Linked DNA regions of Homo sapiens. The protein of the gene in region 1 interacts with the protein of each later gene in a biochemical or structural test. Each region holds a gene or a part of one and is shown on either strand. Other genes may lie near its edges. The genes, in order: DLG4, MAP4, ZSCAN30, PTTG2, CIT, SIPA1L1 and LIN7A.

Region 1 (3,558 bases):
CTACTCAGGAGGCTGAGGCAGGAGAATTGCTTGAACCTGGGAGGCGGAGGTTGCGGCGAGCTGAGATCGCGCCATTGCACTCCAGCCTGGGCAACAAGAGTGAAACTCTGTCTCAAAAAACGACAAAAAAAAAAAGGAATGTGGCTATTTGTAAGATAAATAACAGGAATTAGTAACTTCCCAGCAATAAGAAAATGTAGTGAATAAAAAGCCCCCTTTTGCCATAGAAAAAATTTCTATAAAATTATTAGAAATAGAAACTTGACAAGAAATGTAAGATTTGTATGAAGAAAATGACAAAACTTTACTGAAAGACATAAAACAAGACTGGAAGGGGTGAGGAGTCACACCGTGTCTCTGGATGGAAAAACTTAATATGCTAAAGATCTCAACCGGCTCCAAATTAATCTACATTCCATTCAATCCTAATCAGAATTTTAATGTTGTTTCCCTACTGGGAACTTGGAAGGTTGACACTAAAGTTTGACTGGAAAAATTTGTGTGGAAAAGCTAAGACATTTTGGAAACAAATAATGAGGTGTGGCAGCCCCTACAAAATATGAAATAATACTGTAAAACCATATTAAAATCATGTGGTACTATTCCTAAATACCATAACCTAACAAAAGGAACCTGGGCTCCTTGGAAGAAGGGTCAATTTAAAATCTTTTTTTTTCTTTTCTTTTTTTTTTTTTTTTGAGACGGAGTCTCGCTCTGTCGCCCAGGCTGGAGTGCAGTGGCACGATCTTGGCTCACTGCAAGCTCCGCCTCCCGGGTTCATGCCATTCTCCTGCCTCAGCCTCCCGAGTAGCTGGGACTACAGGTGCCCACCACCACGCCTGGCTAATTTTTTTGTATATTTTAGTAGAGATGGGGTTTCACCGTGATAGCCAGGATGGTCTTGATCTCCTGACCTCATGATCCCCCCACCTCGGCCTCCCAAAGTGCTGGGATTACAGGCCTGAGCCACCGTGCCCAGCCAATTTAAAATCTTTGGCAATAAATCTGTAAGATGAGCTTCTAACTTCTTTCATACTAGAGAGCAAGGAAGGTATCCAGGACTAATAGGGTCTCAGCAAAGACACAGGATCCAAACTGAAGGTGCTTCTACTGTCCAGTGAAAACTCGTTAAATATATTAAAATCTTTAAGATCATAATAATACTTAAAAATATTTTGGCTGGGCGCGGTGGCTCATGCCTGTAATCTCAGCACTTTGGGAGGTTGAGGCAGGCGGATCACCTGAGGTCAGGAGTTCGAGACCAGCCCGCCCAACATGGCGAAACCCCGTCTCTACTAAAAATACAAAAAATTAGCCAGGCGTGGTGGTGGGTGCCTGTAATCCTAGCTGCTGGAGAGGTTGAGGTGGGAGAATCCCTTGAACCTGGGAGGCAGAGGTTGCAGTGAGCCAAGATCGCACCACTGCACACCAGCCTGGGCGACAAGAGTGAAACTCCATCCCAAAAAAATAAATAATTAAAAAAAAAATTGGAGGATGCTAGGCAATCTCATTCATTCTGAAATTGGTGAATGAATGGAAAGAGGCATGCAGAGAGAGGCATGCATTTATCCTCCCTTTCATGTACCAGCTACCTCAGAGAGTAACCAACAGGTTGACATAGGGCTGTTTTTTTGTTTTTGTTTTTGCTTTTTTTTTGTTGGAGGCAGGTCTTGCTTTGTCACCCAGCAGGCTGGAGTGCAGTGGTGTGATCTTGGCTCACTGCAACTTCCGCCTCCTGGGCTCAAGCGATCCTCCCACCTCAGCCTCCCGAGTAGCTGGGATTACAGGCGAGTGCCATCATGCTCAGCTAACTTTTTTTTTTTTTTTTTTGAGATGGAGTCTCACTCTGTCACCCAGGCTGGAGTGCAGTGGCACGATCTTGGCTCACTGCAACCTCTGCCGCCCGGGTTCCAGCAATTCTCCTGCCTCAGCCTCCCGAGTAGCTGGGATTACAGGGCCCTGCCACTGCGCCCAGCTAATTTTTGTACTTTTAGTACAGATGGGATTTCACCATCTTGGCCAGGCTGGTTTTGAACTCCTGACCTTGTGATCCACCTGCCTCGGCCTCCCAAAGTGCTGGGATTACAGGCGTGAGCCACTGCGCCCAGCCTCAGCTAACTTTCAACTTTTGTCTTTTGTAGAGATAGGGTTTCACCATGTTACCCAAGCTGGAGGAATTTTTTTTTTTTTTTTTTGAGAGGGAGTCTCGCTCTGTCACCCAGGCTGGAGTGCAGTGGCACAATCTTGGCTCCTTGCAACCTCCGCCTCCTGGGTTCAAGCAATTCTCCTGCCTCAGCCTCCCGAGTACCTGAGATTATAGACGTAAGCCAGCACGCCCAGCCTATTTTTGTATTTTTAGTAGAGACGGGATTTCACCATGTTAGCCAGGCTGGTCTCAAAGTCTTAACCTCAAGTGATCTGCCTGCCTTGGCCTCCACAGTGCTGGGATTACAGGCATGAGCCATCGTGCCTGGTCGAGATTTTTCTTTTTTACAGAAGAATTCCCACTAGTAAATGACAATCACCACCATTTTGCAGTCCTTGATACTTATCAGAACCAGGCGGTGATTGTCAGTGTGGCTAAAACTTACCTGAAAGGCTGATGGGGCGCTAGATAATGGATGGACTGGGCTGATGACCCTGAACCTACCATTAATCTTACCTGACAGAAAGACAACCAGGCATTATTGCATCCTGTGGTGATGCTGTAGGAAGAACGTAGCGCTACCTATGAAGTATACAGGAGTTACTAAAAAAAACTCTGAATTGAACTTGAAACTGATCAAGCCTCCAGAATGAACTGCCAGTTTACAGGAGATACAGGGGCAGAGGCATAGGCTAAACAAACCACAGGAGGGTAAGCAGTAATTTCCCTGTTAGAATTTCCCTCATAGGCTGGTCAAGGTGGCTCATGCCTGTAATCCCAGCACTTTGGGAGGCATAAGCGGGTGGATCATTTGAGTTCAGAAGTTCCAGACCAGCCTGGACAACATGGTGAAACACTGTCTCTACTAAAAATACAAAAATTAGCTGGGCATGGTGGCGCGCGCCTGTAATCCCAGCTACTTGGGAGGCTGAGGCATGAGAATCACTTGAACCTGGGAGGCAGAGGCTGCAGTGAGCCAAGATCACGGCACTGCACTCCAGCCTGAGACTCCTTCTCAAAAAAACCCCAAAAAAACAAAAGAATTTCCCTCATAGAATGTGGGAAATTCTTTTAGACAAATGACCTAGTTTTTTCAACGAATGGATGGCAGAGAGGTGGGGGGAAAAAAGAGGGAGAAGAATTTTATGGATTAAGAGATTCGAGTGACACAGGAACCCAGAGAAAACCCCCAAAGCGTAATATTAATGCTCCCTTTGACTTCCCCATCCCTGGCATACTGAGGACATATAACGTTCAAATCCTTTATCCCCTAGGACAACCAGCCTCTGATGTCACCTATAAATTCCTGACCCCTGATGTCACTGTGATCTGATATCCCCTTACCACCCCACCCTGGCATCTCTGGCAGAATATCTTCCCTTCCACCTAACTTTGGCTCTTCTGGCACCCTG
Region 2 (3,558 bases), on another chromosome or scaffold:
CTTTGGGCTCCTCCTCCCTTTAAGTCAACAGGCTCAGAGGGGGAGTTACAGTGTTGGCTAAGGTGACTGACCCAGACTATCAAGATGAAATCAGTCTACAACTTCACAACGGAAGTAAGGAAGAGTATGCATGGAATACATGAGACCCATTAGGGCATCTCTTCGTATTACCATGCCCTGTGATTACTGTCAATGCAAAACCACAACAGCCAAATCCAGGCAGGACTACAAATGATCCGGACCATTCAGGAATGAAGGTTTGGATCACTCCACCAGGAAAAAAACCCATGACCTGCTGAGGTATTTGGGGAAGGCAAAGTTAATACAGAATGGGTAGAAGAAGGTAGTCATCAATACCAGCTATGACCACGTGACCAGCTGCAGAAATGAGGACTGTAACTGCCATGAGTATTTCCTCCTTCATTTGTTAAAAACATGTTTGTGTATGTATACACATGTACTAATATCTTCACTTTATATTTCCTTTTCCTTTATCATGTGACATAAGATTTATTGATTTCATAACAGCATTTAAGTATTATTAACTTTATGTAATAGTATTTGGGTTGGGGATTGGTGTGTTTCTGGTTGTATGAAGGATAGTTTTATTACATTAGGTGTAATTATGACCTTATTATTGTCTTTATTTTAAGATTACATACGATCTCAGATGTATATGGGTTCAAGTTGACAAGGAGTGGACTTGTAATGTTAATACTGTCAACTTGATTGGACTGAAGGATGCAATATTGATCCTGGGTGTATCTGTGAGGGTGTTGCCAAAGGAGATTAACATTTGAGTCAGTGGGCTGGGGAAGGCAGACCCACCCTTAACTGGGTGGGCACCATCTAATCAGCCACCAGCGAATATAGAGCAGGAAGAAAAACATGAAGAGATGGGCCTAGCCTCCCAGCCTATATCTTTCTCCCGTGCTGGATGCTTCCTGCCCTCGAACATCGGACTCCAAGTTCTTCATTTTGGGGACTCGGATTGGCTCTCCTTGCTTCTCAGCTTGCAGACAGCCTACTGTGGGACCTTGTGATCACGTAAATCAATACTTAATAAACTCTCCTTTGGAGATATATCCTATTAGTTCTGTCCCTCTAAGAGAATCCTGACTAAAACAAGTAGTGTGGGGCTCGTGACAAAAACTGATAGCTTTGCTGCCAAAGGGGCTCCTGTGGCATGACAGAGCTGTTGTCCACAGCAAATGCCATCTCACACTACTGGAATTATAAATTCCACTATTTGAATAACCACTGCCGAATTCAGGATTTAGCAGCTTTTCTGAAGGAACCATAAATAGGAATTCAATGGTTCCTATAGTAGGAACTGGACTTGGTAATCCCAGCCTGTAATCTCCCAGCACTTTGGGAGGCCAAGGCGGGTGGATCACTTGAAGCCAGGAGATTGAGACCAGCCTGGCCAACACAGTAAAACCCTATCTCTACTAAAAATACAAAAACAGAATAACTAGCTGGGCACTGATTTTTATTATTTAGATGGTATGCACCTGTAATCCCAGCTACTCAGGAGGCTGAGGCAGGAAAATTGCTTGAACCCAGGAGGTGGAGGCTGCAGTGAGCCAAGATCACGCCACTGCACTCCAGCCTACGTAACAGAGCAAGACTCCGTCTCAAAAAAAAAAAAAAAAGTTCCTATAGTAGTAGTGGCACACCTGTGACCCATTTACAACAGACGAATGTGGGTGGGAAGCCCTATTCTATGCTCGTCCAGCCTACTTTACATATAAAGTATTATTGTAACTCCAGATCATGACAGGGAAAATGCTGAGAAATGAGTTCATTAAAGAGCTTTTAAAAGCCTAACAGATTATAATGTCAAAGGGTTCCATGAAAAGCAACTATTCAGTTGCTTTTACTATTCGGTTATGCCATTTCCCTATTCTATCTCTGACAACTATTATTAGTAGTTATCCTTTGGGAGCTGTTATGAACCAAAAACTAAAAAGGACGTCTGTAACTAGTTTTGATAGAGGCAAGAGGCAAACAAATGTCTAGGCAGACAGGGGCGGGTCCTCAGTGAAACCCGAACTTTAATCCGGAAACTGTCCTGGGTAAATCCTGAGATCGGATTAAGAACCTGCCTTCCCGTTTGGCATGATTGATCCCCATCCTTCACCTATTTAACCTGTACCTACCCTTTCCTAATTGGTTTTCTACACTGTCCTGCCCACCTTGGAGTGGTGTCTTCGCTTTGACCTTTTTTGCATACTCACAAACCAATGACCACACACTCCCATTCTGAACCAATAAAGAGCCCCAGGCTCAGCCATATTACGGAACTTTCCTGTCTTCAGGTAGTAGAACCACCTACCATGTTCTCTCTTTTTGCTAAGAGCTTTCCTTTCGATTAATAGATTCTACTCCACTCACTCTTTGATGTCCACGTGCCTAATTCTTCCGCTCCTGAGATAAGAACCTGGACCTAGTTGAGCTAAGGAGCAAAAATCCTGCATCAGTTTCATGGTCAAAGAGAACTTAAAAGGACATCTGTGCCATCCTTAACAACATACCATAAAAATCCAAAATTTAATTTTCCCCAGAAATACATAATGACATAAGATGCAATCTACTCAAATCTTTTCCTCATTTAAGGCACAGGGTAAAAATACAGTCAAAAACACCAATACATTTTAAATATCATTTATCAGAATGCAGATTATCAAAGGGCAGCTTTTATCCATTGTAATCTTTCCCCTATCCAACCCTCAGCACCCCCACCCCGCCCCCAGCCACACACTCTCAGATGACTTCCTGGGCTGCATGTGGTTCATGGAATATGAACAGTAGCTGAAATTCAGCCTAAGAGGGTAAAACTGATAGAAAATTATACAATTGGAAAGTGGGAAGGTCATGAAGCTATGAGCACATCTAGCTAGCCACTTAGCATCTGTATTTCATCAACAGTTAAGCTATTCTTTACTTGTCACCACATAAATAGAATATGATTTTAAAATACACACACACACCCCCTTATGGAAAATGATCCTAGAAAGGTAATGCTAGTGTCATCTTTCAAGTTAAAGTACTGTTGTTTTTTTTTTCCCAGAAATCCCCAGTTTTCAATAAATTAAAGCGATTATCCAATTTTATAGTTATTTTATTCTGAAACATGTATAAGTACAATACACTCTTTAAATGCTCTATAGATGTTAAACTGGTTCAAGTATTCCAAAATTAATTTTAATAAATTCATGTATGAATTTCATCTCACACAGAATCACTTGAAGTTACTTACTATTCGGTTATGCCTTAAATGCTTAGTTACATATTTTATGGATAAAAGGATATGACACTATTATTTTCAAATCTGGATGTTCAGGAGGATCAAAAAATGAACCCTTGTGAATGAGAAGCATTTACTCTAAAAAAAAAACCTCTCACTGACCAATTGACCATTTATACTATTCCTCTTCTATCCATACAGATAATAAAGTTAACTTTAAATAGATTTGTGAGTAAGAGTCAAGAGAATTTGAAAGCTGGGTACAGAAGTCTGTATGCTTTACTGAAGCACCAGTTTAATCTGACACT
Region 3 (3,558 bases), on another chromosome or scaffold:
AACGGGAGTCACAATCCTGGCTCAGGGAGCTTCCTGGTCTGGGCTTCCTGAAGGGCCACAGCTCTTCTCTCCTCTTTGCCTGCAATGTGGTGAGCAAGGGGCATGTTTCAGCTCTGTTTGTGTTACAGCTCTTTCAGCCCCACCATTCAGCAGGTCTCAAGTTCTTGTCCTGCATCCAGATAGAATGAGGTATGTAGACAAGTGGAGGCTGAGCAAAGTGAAGAGGAGCTTTACTGAGAAGGAGGAGCTTTACTGAGCAACAGAATAGCTCAGAGGAGACCCTGGAGTGGGTAGCTCCTCTCTGCAGGCAGCTTGTCCCATCATCGCTGCAGCTGTCAGCAAAGAGGAGGCCCTGAAGTGGGTAGCTCCTCTCTGCAGGTTGGTCCTCCTGTTGTCTCTGCAGCTCTCAGCAGAAAAGAGGCCCTGGAGTAGGTAGCTCCTCTCTGCTGGCAGGTCTTCTCCCCCAGTCTGGCTGAGTCCAGGGAATTTTATGGGCCTCAGAGAGGAAGAAGTGCATGCTGATTGGTCCATTGGTGGCCATGGGCAGGTCCAAGAAAAAGCACCACCAGTTCCCCCTCCAGTCAGGGGGACTGGTGGCCTGGCCATTAGGCTTCAGGCCTTCTGGGGACCCGCCCCTTTCTGCCTCAGAGCATGTCGCCTCCTACTGCTTTCTATGGTGCCCAGGCTGTTCGTGGGGACAAGCACCTGCAGGCAAATGCTGAACTGCCTTCAGCCTTCCCTCAGCCTCCCTTCTATGTTTGTCAGCACCCAAAGTCTGGAGGGGGCTGAAGCAGCAGAGGAATGGCCTGTCAGCACTGCCTCAAGTATGCGCACAACTGGCTGGGCTGCAACAGCACCCTGGCTCGGCCCCAACCTTGCTCCTAGATCAGAGCAGTCACCAGGAGCAGGGAGAGGCCAGGCAGCAGAAGCAGATACCTCCAAGCCTGCTGAGGTGGGGGTGCCTTCCCAGGCCCCTAGAGTGCAGAGATATCCAGGTTGGTCCGCAGCCACAACCTGGGTGGCTACAGCTGCACAAAGGAGGTGGGGGATGCAGGAAGGGCTCATGCCTGCTCCAGCACTCCTGCCTGCTTTGGCACTCCTGCCTGCTCCCAGCCTCCAAGAACACGGTCTGTAGCAAGGACTTGGGTGGCTGCAGTTGCACCCAGGAGAGCAGGGCTCCTGCCTGCTCCTGGTCTCCAAGAACACAGGGAGGCTCAGCCAGCAGCCATGACTTGGGCAGCTGCAGCTATGCCTGGGGAGCTCCCACCCGCCAACTTGGAAGGAGCTGGGCTCCTGCTTGTCCCCGCTCCCTCTGGCTCTGTGAAGCTCACAGCATGGGCAGAGCCTCCTGGCTGCAGCCAGCATCTTGGCAGTGGCCACTCCAGATGGTCCAGATGGCCCACTGTTGCCATCAACAACACTCCAGCCTGGGCAACAGAGTGAGAGACTCCATCTCAAAAAAAGAGAAAAAGGAAAAGGAATAACAATCCTAAACATTTATGCAAATTGTGAGCTTCAAAATACATAAAATTAAAACTGATAGAATCACAAGGAGAATAGACAAAACCACAATTATTGACAGAGAATTCAATACTCATCTTTCAATAATTACTTTTAAAATTAGTAGAAAATCAGCAAAGTATATAGTAAACTTCAGTAATACCATTAACCAACTAACAATAATCAAATAGTCAACCCAACAGCAGCAGAATATATTAATATATCCTTCTCAAATGTGCATGGAACATTTATGAAGACAGACCATGTTTTGGGCCATTAATGAGTCTCAATAGATTTTAAAGGATTCAAGTCATACACAGTATGTTCTTTGACTACAATAAAATTAAATTAGAAATAAATATCAGAAAAATCTCTAGAAACCCCCCAAATATTTAGAAACTGAAATAATCCAAGTTCAAAGTATTCTGAACTGAATGAAAATAAAAAGACAACACATCAGAATTTGTGAGATGCTGCTAAGGCAGTACTTAGGGGAAAATTTATAGCACCAAATTTCTATAACACAAAATAAGAAATATTACAAATCAGAGGCCTCAACTTCCACTTAAAGTAACCAGAAAAAAAAAAGCAAGTTAAACCCAAAGCAAGGAGAAAAAAGGAAATAATAAGGAACAGAGTGGACATTAATAGACCAGAAAATGAAAGACAATTTTTAAATAAATGAAAAGCTGGTTCTCTGTAAAGATAAAAATGACAAAGCTCTGGCCTATCCGACAAGGGGAAATGGGAGAAGATACAAATTACTAATAGCAAGAATGAAAGAGGTAACATCACTGCAGATTCAACAGATACAAAAAGGACAAAGTAATATTATAAACAACTTTATGCCAACTTATACAAAATTGGCTGATTCTTTAAATGATACAAAATACTAAAGCTTACCCTATAAGAAATATATAACCTGAATAGCACCATATCTATTAAAGAAACTGAATTTGTAATTTAAAACCTTCCCACAAAAAAACTCTAGGTCCAGATAGGTTCACTGTGAATTCTGCCAAATATTTAAGGAAGAAATAATACCAATTCTGTACAAACTCTTCAACAATACTGAAGACAATGGGATGCTTTTTGAATCATTCTTTGAGGCCCACGTTACCTTGATCCCAAAACTAGACAACGACATTACAAGAAAACTATAGGCCAATATTCTTCATGAAAAATCCAACAATATATAAAAAGGATAATACATCACAGTGAAGCAGGGTTTTTTACAGGAATGCAGGTTTGGTTTAATGTTCAAAAATCAATCATTGTAAATCACCATATTAACAAACTGTCTTCTCAAAAGATACAGAAAAGGCAATTGACAAAATCCATCCTACATTCCTGATATAAATTCTCACCAAACTAGAATTAGAAAAAAACTTCCTCAGTCTGTTAAAGGGTACCAATAAAAAAAACCACAGCTAACATCATGCTTAACAGAGAAAGGATGCTTAAGATTAAAAAAAAAGACAAAGATCTTCACTTAAGATTGGAAAAAAGACAAAGATTTCCCCTTTCTTCATTTCTACCGAACACTGATATACATAAAGATCAATTTTACTTCTTCTTTTCCAATCTGAATGCCTTTCTCCACCTCCCTTTGCCTGCCTTACTGCGCTGAAAATAAGAAAGGCATCCAGATTGGAAAGGAAGGAGTAAAACTGATCTCATATGTAGAATATCTGATAGAATCTACAAAAACAGCTACTAGAACTAATAAATGAATTTAACAAAGTTGCAAGATACAAGATTAATATACAAAAATCAATTGTATTTCTCTATTATATTACCAACAAACAATCTGAAATTAAAGGAAAAATACAATAGCATCAAAATATATTAAATACTTAGGAATAGATCTGTCAAAAGTTATGAAAGATCTGTAAAATATTAAAAAGAACTATAAAATATTGGTGAGAGATATTAAGGAAGACCTAAATAAATTGAGAAAAATATTGTGTTCATGGATCAGATGACTCAATATTGCTTTAACATGTCAATTCTCCCCATATTGATCTACAGATTCAATCCAATCCCAATCAAAATCTC
Region 4 (2,457 bases), on another chromosome or scaffold:
TGAATAGCAGCTCCTGGCCTAGGAAACTCACTAAGTCTTGGAATTCAGGAACCAGAGAGGAAACCCTGAAGCCTCTCAGGTGATCTGGATTGACACCAGACATCTGTGACTCTATCAAAGCTTTGTACAGAATTCAAGGCATGGACATAAAAGTGCTTTAAGTTGTAAGACATTAGCAGAATAAGATACGGGATTTCATGAACATTATTTAGCCATATAGACATTTTAAGATAATCAGTGTTAGTCCTAGCTGCAAATATGTTCCCTATTTTTTTTTAGCATTCCACAAAATTCTCATTCTTTTAATTATCTCCCTTTGCTGCTAGGACCTCCTTAAGGCTTTCATCTGGTTCACACTAGGCTGGGAAGAAAAGATGTAGAAGTTCTTGGCCTGGCCCTGGCCTTTTCTCCTTTATCCTTTGCTATTTCCTGTCTCCTGTTTCTCTACAGAAGTAAATCATGTTGACATATCCCCAAAGAGTACGGGCTGTAGTATGGAAGAAATATAGAAACAAGGGACAGCTGAGACAGATGCACATAAAGAGGAATATGACCCACTTTATATTTATGTATTTATTATGTTGTTAAACAAATAATGCTTTATTAATACAAGTACACACAAACTCCAAAGCACTAAGAAATTTAAATATCTATGTCATAGCAAACAGCTGGCAATTCAACATCCAGGGTCGACAGAATGCTTGAAGGAGACTGCAAACAGATTGCATTCCCATGGTGGAGAGGGCATTTTCACAGGTGAAGGGGGGCCCAGCTGAAACAGCTTTTCAAGCTCTCCCTCCTCATCAAGGATCATGAGAGGCACTCCACTCAAGGGGAGGTGTGCAATCTGGCGCTCTTCAGGCAGGTCAAAACTCTCAAAGTCTAGAAGATTGAAGGGAAAGAATTTTTCTATTTCTGGATAGGCGTCATCTGAGGCAGGAACAGAACTTTTTGTTTTAACAGTCTTCTCGGTCATCTTTTTGGCAGAAAAGCTTGGCTGTTTTTGTTTTCTGGGTCCATTGGTCTTTACTGACTTTTCTGTAGCTCTGTTGACAGTGCCCAAAGCCTTTCTGGTAGCTTTAGGTAAGGCTGATGGAGCATCGTATGTTTTGCCAAAACGTCGTGTTAAAACTTGAGATATCCCATCTAATGCTTTGATTGAAGGTCTAGACTCCAGCTTCAGCACATCCTTGGCAGCCACACGGGTGCCTGGTTCTCCAATTTCCTTATCAACGTAGATCAGAGTAGCCATTCTGGATTATTGCCGCTCTCAACAGCCACATTCATCTAAGACCGTGGTCCCACTTTATATTTAGATAGAATGTTAACTATAGTGGAAATTGGTGTAATATCTAATTTTTGTGCCTAGCACATCATCTGAGAGTTAGCATGAACTCATATAAAGAGCACAGGCCTGAGGTCAGACAAACCTGGGTAGGAATCTCGGGAGTACCACTTTCTGTTAGCTGTAAGATTTGGGCAAGTTAGCTAACATCCAAGCCCTATTTCCACATCCATAAAATGGAGGTAAAACCCAACTCTTACACATTGTTAAATGGTCAAAAACCACTTAGGTAAAGGGCAGAGCAACCAATAAATAAATAGTTTCTGCCGTTATTGCATTTTCTAATTTATAATGTACTTTTGCATACATTATTTCACTTCTTACTAACCTTTAATAAATGCAAGTCTTCCATTTTTTACTAAAGCAGCACCCCTGAAGTTTCTCTAAACTGCAAAATGCTCAAATGTTTCATCCCGAGTTATCCCTTTTGCCAACTCTGATCTACTGGTGGCAGACAATCCAGCATGCAGTGGTGGGGAGAGCCGAGAGGCCCTCTCTGAGCAACGTGACTACTAATGGTGCTTGCTTGGGCAGGAATACTGGACTATGGCAATGACTATATACCTTTGCCAACCCAACCCCAATCTAGTCCAGGCTATTGATTCACAGCAGCAAAGGGTCACTTCTGTTTCTAAGGCCTAGAGATAAGTTGAGGGCACTTTTGCAGTGAGCCATTTCAATTCAATGATAAATATTCTTGTTGTCTAATTCATTCTATGAATCTTTGACCCAGTGACATATGTGCGTACGTATTTGAGCCCATATGCAAAAATATACAGTTGAGTCTTGAACAATACAGGATTGAGTCGCATGGATCCACTTGTTCTCAGATTTTCTTCTGCGGCTGCCACCTCTGAGACTGCAAGACCAACCCCTCCTCTTCCTCCTCCTCCTCAGCCTATTCAACGTGAAGACAATGAGGGTGAAGACCTGTATGATGATCTATTTCTACTTAATGAATAATGCAATATGTTCTCTTCCTTATGATTTTTCTTAATAACATTTTCTTCAGCTTACTTTATTGTGAGAATACAGGATATAGTGCATAAAACATACGAAATATATGTTAGTCGACTGTGTTATTGGTGAGGTCAACGGAAGACTATCGGTTA
Region 5 (3,558 bases), on another chromosome or scaffold:
ACTGTGAACACTTTCTGTGTAGCCTTCCAGAAAAACAATTTATATATACACATGTGTGGGCTGAGCGTGGTGACTCACGCCTGTAATCCCAGCATTTTGGGAGGCCAAGGTGGGAGGATTGCTTGAGCCCAGGAGTTCAAGACCAGCCTGGGCAACATAGCGACATTATGTCTCTAAAAAAAATAAAAAGGGCCGGGGGTGGGGGTGGGAATCAGACAGATGGTGGCTTGAGCCTGTAGTCGCAGCTATTCAGGAGGCTGAGGCTGGAGGATCACTTGAGCCCAGAAGTTCAAGGCCGTGGTGAGCTATGATCACACCACTGCACTCCAGCCTGGGCAACATAGTAAGACCCTGTCTCTAAAACAAAACAAAACAAACAAACAAACAAACAAACAAAAAGTGGGGGAAAAAGTTAGCCAGACATGGTAGCTACAGCCCATATTCCCAGCTACTCAGGAGGCTGAAGTGAGAGGATCACTTGAGCCCAGGAGTTTGAGGCTGCCGTGAGCTATAATCACGCCACTGCACTCCAGCCTGGGGTAACAGAGCAAGACGCTGTCTCTCAAAAGAAAAAAAAAAAAAGAAAAGCATATGTGTGTATGTGTGTGAATCTATATCTATGTTTGAAAAAAGCATGCAACATTTCATATAGGATGCTATCATTTGGGTTTCAAAAGGAGAGCACACATATATATTTGCTGGTACGCACAGAATATCTCTAGAAACTGCTACCACTTGCCTCTGGAGAAGGGAAAACATTTTTTGGTAGCTATTATATTTTGAGTTACATGCATACATATTTTCCTTTTCAATTACACACACGTTATCCATTTGCTTAGGAAGCTCTTTTTTTTTTTTTTTTTTTTTTTTTTTTTAAGACAGAGTCTCGCTCTGTCACCCAGGCTGGAGTGCAGTGGCGCGATCTCGGCTCACTGCAAGCTCCGCCCTCCGGGTTCACGCCATTCTCCCGCCTCAGCCTCCCAAGTAGCTGGGACTACAGGCACCAGCCACCACACCCGGCTAATTTTTTGTATTTTTTTCGTAGAGACGGGGTTTCACCACATTAGCCAGGATGGTCTCGATTTCCTGACCTCGTGATCCACCCGCCTCGGCCTCCCAAAGTGCTGGGATTGCAGGCGTGAGCCACCACGCCCGGCCAGGAAGCTATTTCTTAAGGTACATTTTCTTCCTAAATTCCTGTGTCTCGCAAAGTCTGAATTACAGTCATGGAGTTCCTTTTTTAAACAACAGTGGCCCCGTGGGGGCCTCAGTTCCCCAAGTCACTCCTGGCCTCCGCAACAGACACACAGGCCTCGGAATGCTGCCTCACCTTGTTCACCTGGGACAGCGGGGTCCTCACGGCTCCCGCAGGCAGCCGGCCCCTGCTGCTGTCTTCAAACAGCCTCCCGGGGGACCGCTCTCTCCGCGTGCTGAGCATCCGGCCGGGGGACTTCTCTCGCTCCAGGGGGCGGCCAGGAGACTTGTCCCTGCGCAGCTCGGTCCGCCCCTCGCGGTAGCGGTGGGGTGTGCTTGGCTCTCGCGGGTGGCTGGGGCCTTCGGGCGGCGCTGGGCTGGAGGCCACGCGCTTGGTGATGTGCTCGTTGTACGTGGGTGGGCCTCGCTTGTTGGGGCTGCTGGCGACACAAGAGGAACGTAGGGAGCTGCGAGGCCACAACCCCAGAGGGGCATTTTCCTTCTTACCTGAGCAACCCCCTCCTTGACCCAGCCTCACCACTGATTATCAAGAGATTAGACCTGGAGTTCTTTGGACTTTGCCTGCATTTGATTTTGGTAGCAAAGACAGGGAAGAGAGCAAAGATGGCAACAAAAGACAACCCACCTTCCTCAGTGCAGGCTTTCATTTACTGAGCACCTACTGTGTGCCAGGCCTGTGCTAAGTTCTTCATCTGCCATCTCTCATTATCTCATTAAATCATCACAGCAGCTCCTGAGCTATGAACAAGCATGACCCTCACTGTACAGGCAAGAAAATGGGGACAGACAGGAGTTAGGTGACTTGCCTGAGCTAATGAGTGGTAGAGCTGGGATTCCAATAAAGACCAGTTTGATAGGCCAGGCGCAGTGGCGCACACCTGTAATCCCAGCACTTTGGGAGGCCGAGGCAGGTAGATCACGAGGTCAGGAGATCGAGGCCAGCCTGGCCAACATGGTGAAACCCCGTCTCTACTAAAAATACAAAAATTAGCCGGGCGTGTTGGCGTGTGCCTGTAGTCCCAGCTACTCAGGAGGCTGAGGCAGGAGAATTGCTTGAACTGGGGAGGCGGAGGTTGCAGTGAGCCAAGATCGGACCACTGCACTCCAGCCTAAGTGACAGAGCAAGACTCCGTCTCAAAAAAAAAAAAAAAAAAAAAAGACCAGTTTGATGTCATAAGCCCCATATAATATCCTACTGACCTACTATTTCCCAGAGCCTAGAAGGCACAGAAGGAAGTCATCAACTAGGAGGTCAGCCTACTAAGACCCAGAAGTCAGGGACCCACAAAGGCCCTCAGTGCAAGGAAGCAGTTTGGAGAAACCCTGTACTGATCACTGTTAACTGCCATGTCTGTCCCACTCCTGGGCCTCGTGTTTGGTCACCTCTGCCCCCATGTGGCTTTCCAAGAGTCTCTGACACCTGATGCAAATGCAGATGCTCAGAAGGTGGATGGTTCTCAGTCATGACAATAAGACGACCGAGAGGTGTAGGGATCAGGCCTGATAGAGTCAGGAAACTGAGCAGGGCAGACAAAGTAAAGCGGGCTCAGAAAACGTCCCAGGCCTCAAAGGTTGATAATTAGTAACCAAGCAGTTGAAAACACTGCGGCCTTTTTGTACAACCCAACCCAATCCTCCACCCACTCCTGGCCTGGATATTTCAAATGAAGATTTCAGCAGACCCAGGGGCCAAACTCCCTCTCTGAAGATGTAGTAAGACCTACAAACACAGAGAGAACTGAAATGTGGCCTTCTGAGTCAATTCTTTCCCACCCTTGATCAGCTCTAAAAGTACTAGGGTCCCTATTATCTCAGCATAATTTGTGCTTGGAAAAGGCCCTACTTAAAATGGAGGAAAAAAATTACAGTGAATATTACTTGAAAACATATTTTGTTTGATTGAGGCTTTATCTTGGAATATAAACTTATTTTATGCTAGATATTTTTAGTATTTAAATTACAATGCAATTACATGCTGATTCCAAAAATGAACCAAGCATGAATCACAGAATGATTTGTTTTGTGCTAATTGTCTCAACAAAATTGCTGCTAACATGCTCTGACACCAACGTTGGACACATTGGACTTTTGCAGTGGATCCTAAAGAAGGCTCTTCAAAAATATTTGAAAAAGCCGGGCACAGTGATGCATGCCTGTAGTCCTAGCTATTAGGAAGGCTAAGGAAGGAGAATTGCTTGAGCCCAGGAGTTCAAGACCAGCCCGGGCAATATGGCAAGACCCCGCTTCTAAAAAACTAAAACTAAAAATTAAAACAAGAAAAGTGTTTTCCCAAAGGACTATCTTAATCCTTGATATTTAAATCCTTCTCATTGGAAGAGGCTA
Region 6 (3,558 bases), on another chromosome or scaffold:
GAAGGGTTATCATTGAAAGAGGAACATGTAAAGTTCTGGAATGTAAAGGGAATAATAGCAGTCTGACAGTAGAAGTATCTAGAAAGCTCAAAAGCCATGTTTAATTAGGTAGCAGTGCAAAACTATTATCCCTTTTACAAAAGATGGTGAAGAGGAGTGCTAGTGAAAACAAATGGCATTTATCTGAATGGCTCCACAGACTCAGCCAGCACGAGCCCAGCCAGAGCTCGCCTCACCCTGCATTCTGCAGGCAGCATGCATTTTTTTTTTTTTTTTTTGAAACACCCCTACATGTTCCAGCCTTTAAATAGCAGCGAGTCTTCTAAAGTGATGCTGTGTGCTGCAAGAGAAATGAAAGCGCCTGCCTTGGAGGCAGGAAGCCGACTAGGGAGATGCTTAATTATCGTGGAAGTAGGTGCTTGTTACCATTGAGTGGAGAGTGCAGCAAGTGCAGGTCGTCCTCCGGTGTCAGAGCCGTGATTTGTAGACAATGCCGCCCTGTCAGCTCAGTGCTGGTTCAGCAGCATCTTTCCAAACATGTATTTGGCAAGAATTTAAAGGCCACCTCTTGTGTAATTTGTGGAGTCTTGGAAAAGGAGCCTCTGCCTTTCTTTTCAGAATGTACGCAACCATGCAGAATTTTGTACTCAGAATCTGTGTCTCCTGCCTTCTGCCTGACGTGCTCATGAGGAAGTTTGTTTCCATGCCCGTCACCTGGAAGGATGCTAACAGTTCTCTGTAATCTGTTGGGGATATGGAGAGGGCCACCCAGAGCTGTGTTTTGTTTCTGCCGTCTTCATAAATTAGCACTGATGGGGTGGAGTAGGTTGTACTGCATGAGGAAATGCAGGCATTTTGTTCATTAGTGAGATACTTCTAGCTTTTAAGAGTACAAGAAACTAAGGAGAGCTTGGGAAGAGGTGGTGGTGAATGCTGGATTCATTCTGCAATATCCTCGTCTCGGTAAGTAATAAAGTAGAGGAAAATACAAAAGAGTGCTAATGGATATAATGGCTCTGGGAAAACTCTTTTTATTTATTTTTTCCTGCTGTATTTGTTTTTGCCAACTATGTTAAGCCTTTGTAAGGAAACAAAAAACATGTATTGATTTTGGAATAGAGGAGTTAAAAAGTGATTGTTGCAGCATATTCAGTAAAGTCATTTTTCAGTTTTTACTTTTGTCAAAAAACTCTGTTGCTCTAATTATCTTATTCACTTGGTTACATCTCAAACTTCTGGTCATCACAGTAGCTCATGATGTTCTACATTTTTAGAGGTCATTGGAGCAAAAGTCTGTACTTTGGGTAGGAGCCATGATATCCAGAACAAGATGTACCCCTCCCCCTGCCCCCCATTTTATGAAACAGTTCAATTAAGATGAAGTCTTAATAGTTTTTTTTTTTAGAATATAAATTATGGATTTTATCAAATGGTTTTTACTTTCTTCCTTTCTTTCAAACCTGCTTTACTAAAAATACGGATTGTGGAACTGTGAATCCTAATCCATTATTGAGTCTTTTATCTTCATGTGTCTGGTTTTGACAATTGCATGTTTGTTTTTAGATGTATTTATCTGCTAATTCAAATTATCCTTTTCTCTTTTAGAGAAAGCATGGGATTATGGCAACCACAGAATCTCAGTAGTACAAGTTCCATTCAGTTTTTTCTGAAAGAAAGCCCTCTGTTAAAGTGAAGCAAAGAAACTGTTGTGGATTATAACGTTTAGAAGTTCCAATTTTTCAGTGCTTTACAAATAAAGCATCATTTAACCTTTTAAATGAAAAAGATTAAGATCTCATGCAACTGTTGTATTTTCTGGAAGCCATTCTCCAAAAGGGAAGTGCACATTTAAAACACAGATATGATGGTCCTTGCTGCAGGGATTTAAGTCTACTTGCTTTTACATCATGACCAGCTTGAAACGGTCACAGACAGAAAGGCCTCTTGCCACTGACAGGGCCTCTGTTGTTGGCACAGACGGCACCCCCAAAGTCCACACTGATGATTTCTACATGCGGCGCTTCCGGTCCCAAAATGGCAGCTTAGGATCATCAGTTATGGCTCCTGTAGGACCCCCCCGAAGTGAAGGTTCTCACCATATAACCTCAACCCCCGGAGTCCCAAAAATGGGGGTAAGGGCAAGGATTGCAGATTGGCCCCCAAGAAAGGAAAACATAAAAGAATCTAGCCGTTCAAGCCAGGAAATAGAAACCTCAAGTTGCCTTGATAGCCTGTCCTCCAAAAGCAGTCCTGTGAGTCAGGGAAGTTCTGTTAGCCTCAATTCCAATGACTCAGCCATGCTGAAAAGCATACAGAACACGCTGAAAAACAAGACAAGACCGTCGGAGAACATGGACTCCAGATTTCTCATGCCTGAAGCCTACCCCAGCTCCCCCAGAAAAGCTCTTCGCAGAATACGCCAGCGAAGCAACAGTGATATCACCATAAGTGAACTTGATGTGGATAGCTTTGATGAATGTATCTCACCTACATACAAGACTGGACCATCACTGCACAGGGAATATGGTAGCACATCTTCAATTGATAAACAGGGAACATCTGGAGAAAGCTTTTTTGATTTGTTAAAGGGCTACAAAGATGACAAATCTGATCGAGGTCCAACTCCAACCAAGCTCAGTGACTTTCTCATTACTGGTGGTGGCAAGGGTTCTGGTTTCTCTTTGGATGTAATAGACGGGCCTATCTCACAGAGAGAGAACCTCAGGCTTTTTAAGGAAAGGGAAAAACCACTCAAGCGACGTTCAAAATCTGAAACTGGAGACTCATCTATTTTTCGTAAATTGCGCAATGCCAAAGGTGAAGAACTTGGGAAGTCATCAGATCTTGAAGATAACCGATCAGAAGACTCTGTCAGGCCCTGGACATGTCCAAAGTGCTTTGCCCACTATGATGTCCAGAGTATATTATTTGATTTGAATGAGGCAATTATGAACAGGCACAATGTTATTAAGAGGAGAAACACCACCACTGGAGCTTCCGCAGCTGCCGTGGCATCCTTGGTCTCTGGACCTCTGTCTCATTCAGCCAGTTTTAGCTCCCCAATGGGCAGCACAGAGGACCTGAATTCCAAAGGAAGCCTCAGCATGGACCAGGGAGATGATAAAAGCAATGAGCTTGTAATGAGCTGTCCATATTTTCGGAATGAGATAGGTGGAGAAGGGGAGAGGAAAATCAGCCTTTCAAAATCAAATTCTGGCTCCTTTAGTGGATGTGAAAGTGCCTCCTTTGAGTCTACCCTTAGTTCCCATTGCACAAATGCAGGAGTGGCAGTACTTGAAGTGCCCAAGGAGAACTTGGTGTTGCACCTAGATAGAGTGAAAAGATACATCGTGGAACACGTAGATCTGGGTGCATACTATTATAGAAAATTTTTCTACCAGAAGGGTAAGTAGAGATCCTTTATTTCTTACATTTTCTTTTGCAGTACTTTCTGAAGAAAAGTACTGTATATTAAGATATTTATTAACAATGTGACATAAGATTTGCATGTCTTATCTTTCTTGATGGTAAAATAGCTAAATAACCATTTGCTCAATT
Region 7 (3,558 bases), on another chromosome or scaffold:
TTCCCTGCAAATGTTTATGCTAAACAAGGTCTGTTTAGCTCCCTTATAAGAAAGCTCAAAGTCAACCACGTATTAAATTTATTATATATATATATATTCTTACTTTACACAATTATAATTACTGTTAATATACTTTGAAATTTTTTAAACTTTTCATACTGTTTTTAAATCTATACCTTATTTGATTTATATAATATATTCAGAGAAATTGCAAGTTCATACTCTGGGGCATAAGCCTCTATGTGACGCAATTGTGTGACCTAGCTCTAGAGTCCTCTACCAGAAAGTTAGACTCTGAAATTATCACTTGAAACATGCTTTGAAAAAGTCACAGTTATCTAAAGGTCAATAAAAAGCTTATCTCAAAACATTATTACATAGAAAAAAGTAAGTAGTAATTGGAATGCTGAAGTGATAGAAAATATTCATGGGTTGAGAATTTTGATATACATTAGAGGACAGCAGAGTTGAAGGAATAGTTTTGGGTTCTATGAAACTACTAGTCAGTCTAAAAATAAGAAACAAATGAATAAAATTCAAGATATGAATACAGAAGAATTTCATTCTACAGTTACCAATAAAATATCATGTTCCAATTACATTTGATTTTGGATATTGTGTCCCAAGCATAAATCAATCTGGCCACAAATAACTGAAATCGAGTTTATATATTAAAATCCTTAAGTTCTTAGAAAAAAGATCTTAGGTTAATCGAAAGGTAACATTGATAAGTTTCTGTTTATATTTCTGAAATGTATGCTTTTAGGTAATTTATGTTTAATATAAGTGGATGTTATAGGGAGAAAATGTTTGTTTCATAGGAAACAATTTCTTTAGCAACTCCTTATTACAAGTGGAAGTGGTGGCATCCAGAGAATATGTTATGAGAAAATGTATATTCATACTTTTACTTTAAAATGTTACATATTTTAATTTACTCTAATTTCATTTAAAAACGAAAGCATATATTATGAATAGGTAATTTAATCAAACTCTTTTTTGGAGGAAGGCTAATATGTTTTTATTATACTATAGCTGTAGATCTGGCTTCAAGAATTTTGAGGCCGGGCGCGATGGTTCACGCCTGTAATCCCAGCACTTTGGGAGGCCGAGGCAGGCGGATCACGAGATCAGGAGATTGAGACAATCCTGGCTAACATGGTGAAACCTCATCTCTACTAAAAATACAAAAATTAACCGGGCTTGGTGGCGGGCGCCTGTAGTCCCAGCTACTTGGGAGGCTGAGGCAGCAGAATGGTGTGAACCCGGGAGGCGGAGCTTGCAGTGAGCTGAGATGGCACCACTGCACTCCAGCCTGGGGGACAGTGTGAGATTCCATCTCAAAAAAAAAAAAAAAAAAAAATTTTGAGTGCATTAGCCTTTTTCATATGTGTTATTATTACATAAACATTAAAATTACCCTTCCTCTGTAATTAAAATGAAAAACCCACACACATTACAAAGTAAGGAGCTATATCTTTATTCTTAAAATGTATGTATTTGCTTATAGTAACTTAGGATAAAAAGTATCTTGAAATTACTGTATTCTTGTAAATGTTACTTGGAGTATTATGGGAAGAAAGTCAGCTAGTTGGATTAATTTCCTGGGATGTTTTTTCAACTCACTGATATTTATCATAACTGAACATAATGAAATGAGACATAAAAATTAGATTGCAGCTTTTATAGGTTTAATATCCATCAATGCTTAGAAAGCTGGTTAGACATAAAATGAATATTTATTCTAGGTTTTCAACGTTGACTTCAGTAATAGCAGGGGGCAAAAAAAAAGAATGTGCTTAAGGAGAAAATCTCTGGTTATTTTATAAACATACCACTCCGTTCACTGATAGCAGCTGGTCTCCTCTTTTGAGGCCTCCGTGTCTTTCAGCCACCCCTCCAGGAATTATGCGAGAGATATAAATGGGGGAATTTTGCTCCTTTCCTCCCATCACATTAAAACCAAGGCCTTCATCAGTCTTTGGCAGTTCAACTACTCGAGGGTGGGAGTGGCCTTCACTAGCTGCAAAAGCTGCAACTGTTGCCTGAAAAAAAAAAAAAAAGATGGTCTTTTGGTAATAAAATGAGGGAAATAAAGGCTAATCATATGCTTTGCAGTGGGTAGCTCAGGCAACTTCTCATATTTTTATAGTATTCTCCTGTGAAAGAAAGAACACAAAAAGCAGAGGACTTTCTTCATTTAGATGCCATCTAGGATTTCTTTCTTTGGTAAAGTCCCACTCATCTATTTCCAGCTTCCTAGGGCTTATCTGTTATGACAGAATTTTCCTGTCTTCATAAAAATCCTTTCCAGTTACCTTGGTTAGCTGCAATTCTTCCTATTCCTGGAGTCCAAATAACTTTGTTATATGTACTATCTACTATTATAATTATTTTATACATGTGTTGACTATGAGCACCTTAAGAGCAGAGATGGCGTCTTGCACTCTTTTGTATGACACAGAGTCTAATCTGGTGCTTGCACATAAAAGTTCATAAGTATTTTTTTAATAAATTGAAGAGCACTTGTATGTATACATACTTTTGAATACATATGTAATCTTGCTATTGCCAACCCAAAAGCTTAGCAAATTTAACTTTTTTAAAAAATTAAGGATGCCTTAAAGAGAATGAAAACTAAAATAAAATAATAGATTCAAACAGATTATTGTTAGCTTATACCAATATACCATATTATTATTCCATACTGAGAAATCTTATCTGGAACAGGATTTTTCTTCCTATATTATACATTAATATTTCAATTATTATAACAAAATAGGCAATATGAAGTCAATGATTTTATACCTAGATATACAAAACATCATTTAATATGGACATAATTTGTTTTAAAATTCATGTACTGATTTCATTAAATGAGTTCAAGAAAACAACTTACCATTAGTTCCCACTAACCCCATAGAAATAAAATAACAGCACTTAGGTAGTTTCTATCAAGAAATGATTCTGTGCCTGCTTATTTTTCACTTTTATTAATTCACCTTGATCACAGTTGATTAGATGCCTGCTATAAAGTGACTTACTCAACACTGTGAAAATATTTATTCCCAACGACTGTACCTTCTTTTCCACACACAGCATTATCACATCAATTTAGCATTATGCTACTGTCTGCATTTAGTGAAAGATAGTGAATGACATGAAAACAATGGCTTGTTTTTAGCTACATGCATTTGCTCATGCAAACCTCATTGTCATGCATAGATTTTAATGGCTGACATGGATGCAATGCAGACAGCCCAGAAACAACCAGAAAATACTGTGCTATTGCAACATTATGCTGCTATCCTGCTGTTCTACATGAATAAGAAATGAGAATGGTAAAACACTACACAATTCACTTTCCCCTTAATTAAACCACGTAGGGATCATTTTTCTGTGTGTGTTCCACTTCAGTACAAGCAAAGCATGACATGATGATAATAACACCCTCTTTTTTTCCCTGAGTTTAAACAAAACAAAACAAAACAAAAAAACCTTACAAATCTACAGTGTTCAGTTACAGAGTAAAAACTAAAAAATCAAGAGAGAAACTAA

The links.
Region 2: the proteins of DLG4 (region 1) and MAP4 interact in a test that uses a peptide from one of them, tested with the Homo sapiens proteins (one large-scale study listed by IntAct).
Region 3: the proteins of DLG4 (region 1) and ZSCAN30 interact in a test that uses a peptide from one of them, tested with the Homo sapiens proteins (one large-scale study listed by IntAct).
Region 4: the proteins of DLG4 (region 1) and PTTG2 interact in a test that uses a peptide from one of them, tested with the Homo sapiens proteins (one large-scale study listed by IntAct).
Region 5: the proteins of DLG4 (region 1) and CIT interact in a test that uses a peptide from one of them, tested with the Homo sapiens proteins (one large-scale study listed by IntAct).
Region 6: the proteins of DLG4 (region 1) and SIPA1L1 form a complex in vitro, tested with the Homo sapiens proteins (2 studies listed by BioGRID and IntAct, with this or other methods).
Region 7: the proteins of DLG4 (region 1) and LIN7A form a complex in vitro, tested with the Homo sapiens proteins (one study listed by BioGRID).

What each region holds. Positions count from the first base shown.
Region 1 is NC_000017.11:7,197,120-7,200,677, reverse strand, and holds part of DLG4 (disks large homolog 4), read left to right. Parts: intron 1-3,558. UniProt on the Homo sapiens protein: Postsynaptic scaffolding protein that plays a critical role in synaptogenesis and synaptic plasticity by providing a platform for the postsynaptic clustering of crucial synaptic proteins.
Region 2 is NC_000003.12:48,009,914-48,013,471, forward strand, and holds part of MAP4 (microtubule-associated protein 4), read right to left. Parts: intron 1-3,558. UniProt on the Homo sapiens protein: Non-neuronal microtubule-associated protein. Promotes microtubule assembly.
Region 3 is NC_000018.10:35,283,725-35,287,282, forward strand, and holds part of ZSCAN30 (zinc finger and SCAN domain-containing protein 30), read right to left. Parts: intron 1-3,558. UniProt on the Homo sapiens protein: May be involved in transcriptional regulation.
Region 4 is NC_000004.12:37,959,230-37,961,686, reverse strand, and holds PTTG2 (securin-2), read right to left. Parts: upstream 1,290-2,457; 5' UTR 1,253-1,289; coding exon 677-1,252; 3' UTR 559-676; downstream 1-558.
Region 5 is NC_000012.12:119,688,821-119,692,378, forward strand, and holds part of CIT (citron Rho-interacting kinase), read right to left. Parts: intron 1,635-3,558; coding exon 1,331-1,634; intron 1-1,330. UniProt on the Homo sapiens protein: Plays a role in cytokinesis. Required for KIF14 localization to the central spindle and midbody. Putative RHO/RAC effector that binds to the GTP-bound forms of RHO and RAC1. It probably binds p21 with a tighter specificity in vivo.
Region 6 is NC_000014.9:71,585,966-71,589,523, forward strand, and holds part of SIPA1L1 (signal-induced proliferation-associated 1-like protein 1), read left to right. Parts: intron 1-332; exon of another isoform or gene 333-963; intron 964-1,605; 5' UTR 1,606-1,907; coding exon 1,908-3,405; intron 3,406-3,558.
Region 7 is NC_000012.12:80,843,895-80,847,452, forward strand, and holds part of LIN7A (protein lin-7 homolog A), read right to left. Parts: intron 2,046-3,558; coding exon 1,836-2,045; intron 1-1,835. UniProt on the Homo sapiens protein: Plays a role in establishing and maintaining the asymmetric distribution of channels and receptors at the plasma membrane of polarized cells.